Homo sapiens: one gene and its partners. The protein of the gene in region 1 purifies or fractionates together with the protein of each later gene. This does not show direct contact. Each region holds a gene or a part of one and is shown in the gene's direction. Other genes may lie near its edges.

Region 1 (3,754 bases):
GGAAGGAATCACTCCATTGATTGCCTTTAATTTTTGTCTTCGACACGGATAATAGCAATCACTGGTCTCTCTGTGCAATTTGGGCTTATTCTCTACTGCCATAACTGCAAATACCTGATATTTACTTATTTTTCCCTATAAGTAAGGAAACAGTGATATTTCTTGTAAATTAGATATGTGACCATTGAAACATTAATCATGTTATGTGTATAAAGTATATGCAACTGAATTGACATAACCTAAAACTTGAATATCTACTCTATTTCTAGAATATTATGTCTACTGCAAAAACACATGTCTGTAATCCCAGCTATTCAAGAGGCCGAGGCAGGAGAATCACTTGAACCTGGGAGGCGGAGGTTGCAGTGAGCCGAGATGGTGCCACTGCACTCCAGCTCAGGCGACAGTGCGAGACTCCGTCAGGGCACTCCGAGGGGTTGAATCACAGATGGACAGATGGCTCTTTCTCTCTCCACCTTTTTTTTGAGACAAGTTCTCACTCTGTCACCCAGGCTGGAGGGCAGTGATGCAATCACTGCCATCATGATGAGCTTGACATCATTTAATTCTTAAAGACTTTCCTAATGAACTCAGATGTTAACAAATGTGATTTTTAAAATATTGCATACCGTGTCAACATATAGAAGACCAGCATGATTCAATGAATCAATAGTTTCCAAATGATTTATGCATGCTATTATAAAATCATGCATGGGTGAAAGATCATTCAAAGTTCAAGATGGGCCAATGGATTTTCACATAATAGAGTATGAAGTGATTACTCATATGGTTCAAATTCCATATTGCAATGACCTTTTAAGAAACTACCACTTGTAAGAAACTACCACTTGTGGGCCGAGCAAGGTGGCTCATGCCTATAATCCCAGCACTTTGGGAGGCCGAAGCGGGCGGATCACGGAGTCAGGAAATCGAGACCATCCTGGCTAACGATGGTGAAACACCGTCGCTACTAAAAATACAAAAAAAGTTAGCTGAGCGTGGTGGCGGGCGCCTGTAGTCCCAGCTACTCAGGAGGCTGAGGCAGGAGAATGGCGTGAACCCGGGAGGCGGAGCTGGCAGTGAGCCGAGATCGCGCCACTGCACTCCAGCCTGGGCGACAGGGCGAGACTCCATCTCAAAAAAAAAAAAAAACAAAAAACAAAAACAAAAAAAACTACGACTTGTTGAGCCGGGTGTGATGGTGCCTACCTGTAGTCTCGGCTATTTGAGAGGCTGAGGCAGGAGGATCACTTGAGCCCAGGAATTTGAGGTTGTTGCTATGATCGTGCCTGTGAATAGCCGCTGAACTTCAGCTTGGGCGACATAGCAAGACCCTGTCTGTAAAGTAAACAAATTACCACTTATTGAAATTTGATGCCATATCAAAGAAGACTCATTTCCAACTACATATCTGTGTGACAATGGGTATATATGAAGCAGATATGAGAATCTTGCTGCTTTCTGTTAAGTCAGATATTAAAGAGATTTGCAAAAATATAAAACAATACCACTCTTTTCATACATTATTTTATTTAGAAAAACAGTTACTTTTCATAAAAATGTTATTTTAACATATAATGTGTTTATTATTTTCTTTCTTTTCTTTTTTTTTTTTTTTTTTTGAGATGGAATCTTGCTCTGTTGCCCAGGCTGGAGTCCAGTGGTATGATCTCGGCTCACTGCAACCTCCACCTCCCAGGTTCAAGTAATCCTGGTGCCTCAGCCTCCTGAATAGCTGGGGTTACAGGTGGTGCCACCACGCCCAGCTAATTTTTATTTTTTATTTTTTGTATTTTTAGTAGAGATGGGTTTTTGCCATGTTGCCCAGGCTAGTCTCGATCTCCTGAGCTCAGGCAATTAGCCTGCCTCACCTCCCATAGTGCTAGGATTACAGGCATGAGCCACCACACCTGGCCTATTTTCAAAGCAAGGTAGTTAAAAGGATGCAGAAATCAGCTTGAAGGAACTAATGAAGTTGACTTTGATCACTTGATGAGGTGGTGTCTGCCAAGCTTTTCCACTGTGAGGTTACTTTTTCTCCTTATAATTAATAAGAGAAAAGGCTCATAATTAATAAGAGGCCACCCACCGCGGCCTCCCAAAGTGCTGGGATTACAGGCATGAGCCACTGTGCTCGGCCAATTTTTGGAGGGAGATACTTTAAAACTACACAAATACCCAATTCCTTAACAAATTATCAATCCATTTATTAAAATTGATTCAAAATTTATTTTATTTTATTATTATTTTTTGAGACGAAGTCTTGCTTAGTCTCCCAGGCTGGAGTGCAGTGGTGGGATCTTAGCTCACAGCAACTTCCACCTCTAGGGTTCAAGTGATTCTCCTGCCTCTGCCTCCCAAGTAGCTGAGACTACAGGTACCTACCACCATGCCCGGCTAATTTTTGTACTTTTAGTAGAGATGGGGTTCACCATGTTGGCCAGGCTGGTCTCAAACTCCTGACCTCAGATGATCCACCAGCTTCTGCCTCTCAAAGTGCTGGGATTACAGGCATGAGCCACCGTGCCCAGCCTGGATTCAGAATTTCTTATTCACTGATTTAAAAATCTGTTTACTATCATTATTTTGATGCTAGCACTGTCCCAGATTTGTCCAGTGAGAGGTCCTTCAAGCTGGCTTTTGTGTTCTTTTAATTTCTTTGCTCTTTGGTACAAGTGGTCAGTAGTTTAACTTAACTTACTGGTAACCCCTTTAGCACTCTTGTCTTTTTAGAAATATTTTGTGGTGCTTTGTTTTTGAATATTATCTGAATATAATGTATTTCCATAGTTTTAGATCAAAACAAGGGCCAACTAGCCTCATCCAGTAAAGGGTTATCTAACCTTGAAAGGAGACTTAAAAAAAAAAACCTATACCCTTCATATTTACTGCATCTGTTTTCTATCATGCATCAACTCTAGTAACCAAGTGAACCTAAAATCAAACTAGTAGTTTTTTGTTTTTACGTGGGTATCTTCCCTCTGCTAAAGTTATAAAATTTTAGCATATTAAAGCTAATGTATTTGTTTCTGCATATCTTGTATTTCTGTTGATTATTAATTAGGTCATCATAAAAATACAACCTAACAATATAAAAGAAGAAAAATTTAATACAAATATGTTCAGATGGTATTGTATATAAAACATTTTAATGCTAATACTTAAGTCCTTTAGGTACTTTGAGCAGTACCTTTTGTGTGTGTGTGTGATGGAGTTTTGATGTTGTTGCCCAGGCTGGAATGCAGTGGCGCGATCTCAGCTCACTGCAACTTCCGCCCCCTGGGTTCAATCAATTCTCTGTCTCAGCCTCCCGAGTAGTTGGAATTACAGGCATCTGCCACCATACCCAGCTAATTTTTTTTTTTGTATTTTTAGTAGAGACGGGGTTTCACCATGTTGGCCAGGCTGGTCTTGAACTCCTGACCTCAGGTGATCCACCTACCTCGGCCTCCCAATGTGTGGGGATTACAGGCATGAACCACCGCGCCCACCCTGAGCAGTACCTTTTTATTGAGAGTTTATTGAATTGTCTCTTTCTATTAAGAAGAAATTGACTGTTTTTCCAAAGTGTATGGAAAATTATTTCCAAAGTATTTTTCTGTATATTTCATCAATTATTTGGTAACACTGAAATGTTTTAGTTTTAAAACATTTTAAGCTGGTGATGGTGGCACACACCTGTAATCCCAGCACTTTGGGAGGCCGAGGATCACCTGAGGTCAGGAGTTTGAGACCAGCCTGGCCAACATGTTGA
Region 2 (3,754 bases), on another chromosome or scaffold:
CATTTGTGGCCGAGCGCAGTGGCTCATGCCTATAATCTCAGCACTTTGGGAGGCTGAGGCAAGTGGATCGCCTGAGGTCAGGAGTTCAAGACCAGCCTGGCCAGTATGGTGAAACCCCATCTCTACTAAAAATACAAAAATTAGCTGGACGTGGTGACGGGCACCTGTAAATCCCAGCTCCTCGGGAGGCTGAGGCAGGAGAATCGCTTGAACCCGGGAGGTGGAGGTTGCAGTGAGCCAAGATCCTGCCATTGCACTCCAGCCTGGGCAACAACAGTGAATCTCTATCTCGAAATAATAATAATAATAATCATCATCATAAATAAAATTGCCATTTGATGCCACTTGCCCTGGGGCTGATTTTTACAAGCGTTTAACTATATCGTTGTATCCCTGAAAGCAGAGAGTGCCATGTTTCAGTATTACCCAGCAAAGGCGATTTTGCAAGGGTCACCTTTGACAGCCGTGCCTGGAGGGAGCCTGCCCGGGGTGCGAAGGGGAAGGGCAGCCATCCTCACGTGGGTTTCTTTCTCCAGGCTGTCGAAGGAGACTGTGATTTCCAGCTGTTGAAACTAGATGGCAAGTTTTCCGTGGTATACGCAAAATGTGATTCCAGTCCAGGTACAGATGACTATTCTTATTCTCATTTTTTCCTTGTAGAGAAAGTGGGGAAGGGATCTGAATAATTTTCAACTTAAGTAGTTCTAGCAGCTTTGTCGGTGAGGAAAAGGAGAAGCCAAATTTCCTGGGTTCTGGGATTTTTAAAATTGTGTTTTAAGAAGCTACTCTTGGCCTGGTGCGGTGGCTCACGCCTGTAATCCACCCACCCGAGGCAGGTGGATCACCTGAAGTCAGAAGTTCGAGACCAGCCTGGCCAACATAGTGAAACCCCCATCTCTACTAAAAATACAAAAATGTGGTGGTGCTCGCCTGTAATCCCAGCTACTAGGGAGGCTGAGGCAGGAGAATCGCTTGAACCTGGGAGGCAGAGGTGGCAGTGGGCCGAGATCGCACCACTGCACTCCAGCCTGAGTGACACAGAGTGAGACCCTGTCTCAAAAAAATAAGAAGTTATTCTTACTGGAAGTGAAAATTGCCTCGTGATGATAAGAGCTCCTGCAGAAATGTCAGCATAGCAAAAGCCTTTTGAAGGTTTAGTAAGAAGCAGAGAAAGTGCCTGAAGCTATCTGGGGAATGCCTTAGCCCTTGCTAACGCAGCAGAGCTGGGGCCATGCCAGGGAGAATGGCTGCCCACATCCTGGTTTCCTCTCTCCGAGCAGACTCAGCCGAGGACGTGCGCAAGGTGTGCCAAGACTGCCCCCTGCTGGCCCCGCTGAACGACACCAGGGTGGTGCACGCCGCGAAAGCTGCCCTGGCCGCCTTCAACGCTCAGAACAACGGCTCCAATTTTCAGCTGGAGGAAATTTCCCGGGCTCAGCTTGTGGTAAAGACTGAGATTCTTTTGACAGGTTGGGCAGTTCGGTGGCACTTCGGGAATGTACTGTACGTGGTGGAGCGGGAGGCAGGGAAGAACAGGCGCAGGGGCAGCGATGAGAAAGCAAGGAGAGGGTTGTTTGGAAAGGGAAGAAAGCATCCTAAGGGGGTATGAGGCTCCTGAGTGTCATGAGGACCCCAACACCCTCAGCGCCTCCCCCATGCTGAGCCACTGTAACGTCCAGCAGCCACAGCTGCCGGCAGGTACATCCCCACTCCCTCCGTTCCAGCTAAAACCAAAGCTCAGTGTCAGCTGGTAGAGTTGCCCACGTCGGCCAGAAGCACTCACTGTAAATTTGCTGGGCTCCAGTACCACCCATCTCCGCTGAACATCTGCCACAGACTCGTAATTAATACTCACTTGTGCTGACAAGCTTATAATGGCAAGATCTTAAAATGCCTTTCGAGTCACTGGAGAAAACATCTCATTGTACTGTGGGTGGTTTAGCACATTGGAATTCAACAGAATTCAAATGTTTAAGAAAATGTATTCTGGATATCAGCCATGGCCATACTTGGAAATACGCTAGTATAGACGGCAATTCTATTAATCAGAATATGTGATTCTCAGAACATCCCCACCCCAGACTACACCAAATAACAGATATTTTATTGTGTCCATATGCTCCAACTACTTTAAAAAAGAAAAGCTCAAGTGATATCTTCCATACTTTCATCTAAATCTTTTCATTTGAGCCTGCTCTATGAAACAGGTGGAAGAGGTATTAATCTCTTCACTTTCCCACCCTATTTTGGAATAACCTGAACCTTGGGTATCAAGTGCAGCCCAAGAGTGAGGGCTGGGGGGAGGCAGGGTTCCCACTCCTATCAGTCTAATGCTGGCCTTCTGATTCCGGTTTCCTATCTGCAAACTCACCTCCACCCTGAAGGACCGGTGATGGATACTTGCCCCTCCTACAAGGAAGACACAACCCCTACCTCTAAAGCACAAGCACTTGAGAACACAACCCCATAGCAACTGCCCTATGTAAGCCATTGAGGGACATGTCTTCTGGGCCGACGCATGGTCTGCATGAATGGTGCTCCCCGAAGGAGGCTACTTCCCGCTCTCCTTCTCTGCCCTTTTCATTGTAAGTCATCTTTCCTCAAGAGCATTTTCATGTACTCTTCTCAGCCCCTCCCACCTTCTACCTATGTGGAGTTTACAGTGTCTGGCACTGACTGTGTTGCTAAAGAGGCCACAGAGGCAGCCAAGTGTAACCTGCTGGCAGAAAAGGTGAGTGGGCCGGGACCTTGGGGTGTTACCACTCGGACAGAGCTGTTTGTGGAACAGAACATCCTTGGATAGTTTGTATCTTGGGGCTGCAGACAGAGAATAACAGTGCAAATCCCCTCTCCCTGTGGATCACGGCAAGCCTTCTTTTAGGGTGTCACCTCATCCCTTTAAGAGCTGTCATCAAATCATCTCACCCACTGGAAGCACATGAAGTTAGGAGAAAGAGAGAGGCTATTTGCTAATGAAGCCAAGTCACGCCCACCCACTGGGAATGTGAAGTGCACATTTTCTAGACATATAACTCTGATACAAAAGCTTTCAAGTCCTTGAGCCAATAATGTACACTTCTAGGATTTTAGTCTAAAGAAGTCATCAGTGGCCAGGCATGATGGCTCATGCCTGTAATTCCAGCACTTTGGGAGGCCAAGACGGGTGGATCGGGAGGTCAGGAGATCGAGACCATCCTGGCTAACATGGTGAAACCCCGTCTCTACTAAAAATACAAAAAAATTAGCCAGGCTTGGTGGTGAGCGCCTGTAGTCCCAGCTACTCGGGAGGCTGAGGCAGGAGAATGGTGTGAACCCAGGAGGCAGATGTTGCAGTAAACTAAGATCGTGCCACTGCACTCCAGCCTGGGCAACAGAACGAGACTCTGTCTCAAGAAAAAAAGAAAAAGAAAAAGAATTCATCAGTGACATTTGACAGAATATATCTATAAAAATGATTTATTATGGATATAAAGAGACCAAAAAAGAGAGATCTGTATGTCCAACAGGAAGGTGTCATTGAATAATCCATGCACATCAGTAAATAGAAAATTGTGCAGACACTAAAAATTGTGTTTTCAAGGAATAATGAATGATATGAGAAAATGCTATTATGGCAAGTGAAAACACACAGGATACAACATCGTATAGTCACAATGATCTCAATTTTTAAATCATATTTAATAGTATTTTAAAATAAGAAAGAAATGCATCAATGTTAACAGTCCTTCTTTCTAGGCCACCACCAGAAAGGGAT
Region 3 (3,754 bases), on another chromosome or scaffold:
GCTGGATTGAACTTTCGAATTACCTACTCAATTGTGCAAACGAATTGTTCCAAAGAGAATTTTCTGTTCTTAACTCCAGACTGCAAGTCCCTTTGGAATGGTGTAAGTAGGCAAAAATTTAATGATAAAGTTCTTAGCATTTTGTTTACATTTTGTGGTAACTATCAAGCTGGGTGGGAAGACTGTCACGAAAAGTTTAGATGACATTCAGCAATTCATATTCACATTTACTTGGGAAGACTAAAGCTCACGTCACTGGTCAAGCTGCCTTACCTAACTGGCCAAAGAATCTGCACAGCTAGCAATAAGTATTTTTTTATAACTTTATTTTATTTTATTTATTTTTTGAGACAGGATCTCAATCTGTTCCCCAGGCTGGAGCACAGTGGTGTGATCTCATCTCACTGCAGCCTCCACCTCGCATGTTCAAGCTATTCTCCTGCCTCAGCCTCCCAAGTAGCTAGGACTACAGGCGCCAACCACCACGCATGGCTAATTTTTGTATTTATAGTAGAGACAGGGTTTTACCGTGTTAGCCAGAGTGGTCTCGAACTCCTGACCTCAGGTGATCCGCCCACCTTGGCCTCCTAAAGTGCTGGTATTACAGGCATGAGCCACCGTGCCTGGCCAGCAATAAGTATTTACAGAGCATAACCAGGGACTACGAATAGATAAAATGCTTGAACGGTCAACTGTATCTTTGTTATGTCTCCACACTTTCCCATTTCCTTTTCTTCCCCAGGTGCTCAATGCCCATATGGTGTTCCCTTGCTCTACCCAGGGTTATTCTTCATGTCAAACTTTTCTCTGTTTGTTTTCTCATCTTCCCTTCCCTACCTTTATCTTTAATAAACAGACCCTGAGTCTCTAGCCCTTAGTGGTCCTTCTTAGCATCGTATCTTGTTATCTGAACCAAAATTATATTAAAATGGTATATCTCAAGGTAGTAGTAGCTAGCGAATGTTAAGATGGCGAAGACATGATATGTGCCCAGGGATGTTTGCATTTGAGCAGAAGACTGTGCTTTAGCCAAGGAAATGCTGCAAGTCCTTTGATCTAGTAATTCTGCTTCTAATTCATTTATATGGGAAATCCAGACCATAAGATGTTAATGTCAGTTGTTTTTTAATAGAAAAATATTGTAAACAAATAGTTTATGCAACATTACAGAATGGTTAAGTAAATTACAGTATATCCATACAGTAGAATATGATACAGCTATCAAAAATTTTTAGTTTTTAGTGACATAGTAAAACGGTTACAATGTTAAGTAAAAAACAAAAAAAGTGGGATACAAAACTATACATACGGATTTATTTAAATATGTAAAATAAATGTAAATACAAAAAGTGATGGAAAACAAATTATGACAAAATATAGAATGTAGTTAACTTTCAGTTGGAATTGTGGGTGCTTTTTCTTTTTTGAGAAGAGGTCTTGCTCTGTCACCTTGGCTGGAGTGCAGTGGTGCGATCTCGGCTCACTGCAACCTCTGCCTCCCAGGTTTAAGCAATTCTCATGCCTCAGCCTCCCTGAGTAGCTGGGATTACAGGCGCCCGCTGCAACGCCAGGCTAATTTTTGTATTTTGGGTACAGATGGGGGTTTTGCCACGTTGGCCAGGCTGTTTTCGAATTCTTGATCTCAGGTGATCCACCCACCTTGGCCTTCCAAAGTGCTGGTATTACAGGTGTAAGCCACTGCATCCGGCCGCTTTTTCTGATTCTTTATATTTTTTGGAAGTTTTTGATATTTCCCGAGTTTTCTAATTGAGCATGCATTTATTTTATAATTGGAGAAAAAAGTAAAAAGGACACTATCAAGAGAGTAAAAATACAACCCACAGAATGAGAGAAAATATTTGCAAATCATGTATCTGATAAGAGTTTAACATGCAGAATATATAAAGAACCTCTTTTTGTTCATAAAATAACAAGTATTAGAAAGGGCATGGAGAAATTAGAACTTTTGTACATTGCTGGTAGGACTGTAAAATGCTGCAGCCATTATAGAAAATAATTTGGCAATTTCTGAAAAACTTAACTATAGAATTACTATGTGACCCAGAAGTTGCACTCTTAGGTATATGCCCAAAAGAACTGGAAATGCATATTCAAACACGTGTTTATACATGAATTTCTATAGCAGCAAAATTCATAATAGCCAGAAAGTCAAAACAACCCAAGTGTCTATCAATAGGTGAATGGATAAACAAAATGTGCTATTATATATACACAATGAAACACTGTTCACCCTTTAAAAAGAATGAAATTCTGATACATGCTACAATGTGGATGAAGCTTGAAAATATTATGTTAAGTGAAATAAGCCAGACACACACAAAAAATATTGTATGATTCCACTTATATAAAACACCTAGAATAGGCAAATTCAGTCAGAGACTATTGGAGTTGCTAGAAATGTAATGTAGGCTTTTCTTTTTTTTTTTGAGACTGAGTTTTGGTCTTGTTGCCCAGGCTGGAGTGCAATAGCGCGATCTTGGCTCACTGCAACCTCCGCCTCCCGGGTTCAAGTGATTCTCCTGCCTCAGCTTCCCGAGTAGCTGGGATTACAGGCATGTGCCACCACGGCCGGCTAGTTTTGTATTTTTAGTAGAGATGAGGTTTCTCCATGTTGGTCAGGCTGGTCTCGAACTCCCAACCTCAGGTGATCCGCCTGCCTCAGCCTCCCAAAGTGACTTATCACACAGCACCTGGCTATGTTTGTTTATTATTCTTTTTTCCCCTCACTTCTGGAGACCTAGGCATAGGTCTTTCTATTTGTTTGTTCTATTTGTTTGTTCTATTTGTTTTTCTCCCTCTGTTTTTAAATTATGAAATCATGTCGAGTCAAAAATTAACTTAGAATGCTGTTCTAATAACATTATATGGAATTCTCATTTTTGTTATTTTGTTTTTTTTTTCCTTATCCAAGAAAGACCCTAACTTTATTGGCAAGCATGTTTATATTTCCAAGTATATTGTTTTTGTTTGTTTAAACATGTTATGAATTTTTAGAGATTATTTTTTCTTTTTGGTGCTGAGGTGAAAGAACATACCCTGTATTGTTTCTGCTTTGTAAAATGTATTGGATCTTTTTGTGACCTGGTGTAAAAACAATTAAAAATATTTGTATGATACTGGCCGGGCACGGTAGCTCATGCCTGTAATCCCAGCATTTTGGTGGGTGGATCACTTGAGATCAGGAGTTCGAGATCAGCCTGGCCAACATGGCAAAACCTCATCTCTACTAAAAATACAAAAAAATTAGCCGGGTGTGGTGGCAGACGCCTGTAATCCCAGACACTTGGGAGGCTGAGGCAGGAGAATCACTTGAATCCAGGAGGCAGAGGTTGCAGTGAGCTGAGATTGCGCCACTGCACTCCAGCCTTGGCGACAAAGAGAGACTCCATCACAAAAAAAAAAAAAAAAAAAAAAAAAAAAATATATATATATATATATATATATATATATATACACACACACACACATATATATATACACATATATATATACACATATATATATACACACACACAAATACATACAAATTAGTATGATACTTATGAAAGTATCATTTAAAATCATATGTAGCATATGAAAATACCATTTAAATAAATCTTTAATATGTTATTCAAATCTTCTATGTTCTTGTTTATTTTTTATTCACTTGCCCTGTCTTAGATTTGTAATTGCATACTAAATTTTCCCACCATATTATTTCTATCCATTTCTATTCACGTGTAATTTTTTCTAC

The links.
Region 2: the proteins of GDPD1 (region 1) and AHSG purify together in Homo sapiens (affinity purification with mass spectrometry; 3 studies listed by BioGRID and IntAct, with this or other methods). This does not show direct contact.
Region 3: the proteins of GDPD1 (region 1) and KNG1 purify together in Homo sapiens (affinity purification with mass spectrometry; 3 studies listed by BioGRID and IntAct, with this or other methods). This does not show direct contact.

Annotation. Positions count from the first base shown.
Region 1 is NC_000017.11:59,223,488-59,227,241, forward strand, and holds part of GDPD1 (lysophospholipase D GDPD1), read left to right. Parts: intron 1-3,754. UniProt on the Homo sapiens protein: Hydrolyzes lysoglycerophospholipids to produce lysophosphatidic acid (LPA) and the corresponding amines. Shows a preference for 1-O-alkyl-sn-glycero-3-phosphocholine (lyso-PAF), lysophosphatidylethanolamine (lyso-PE) and lysophosphatidylcholine (lyso-PC).
Region 2 is NC_000003.12:186,615,907-186,619,660, forward strand, and holds part of AHSG (alpha-2-HS-glycoprotein isoform 2 preproprotein), read left to right. Parts: intron 1-536; coding exon 537-621; intron 622-1,277; coding exon of another isoform or gene 1,278-1,280; coding exon 1,281-1,444; intron 1,445-2,629; coding exon 2,630-2,731; intron 2,732-3,754. UniProt on the Homo sapiens protein: Promotes endocytosis, possesses opsonic properties and influences the mineral phase of bone. Shows affinity for calcium and barium ions.
Region 3 is NC_000003.12:186,727,243-186,730,996, forward strand, and holds part of KNG1 (kininogen-1 isoform 1 precursor), read left to right. Parts: coding exon 1-102; intron 103-3,754. UniProt on the Homo sapiens protein: Kininogens are inhibitors of thiol proteases.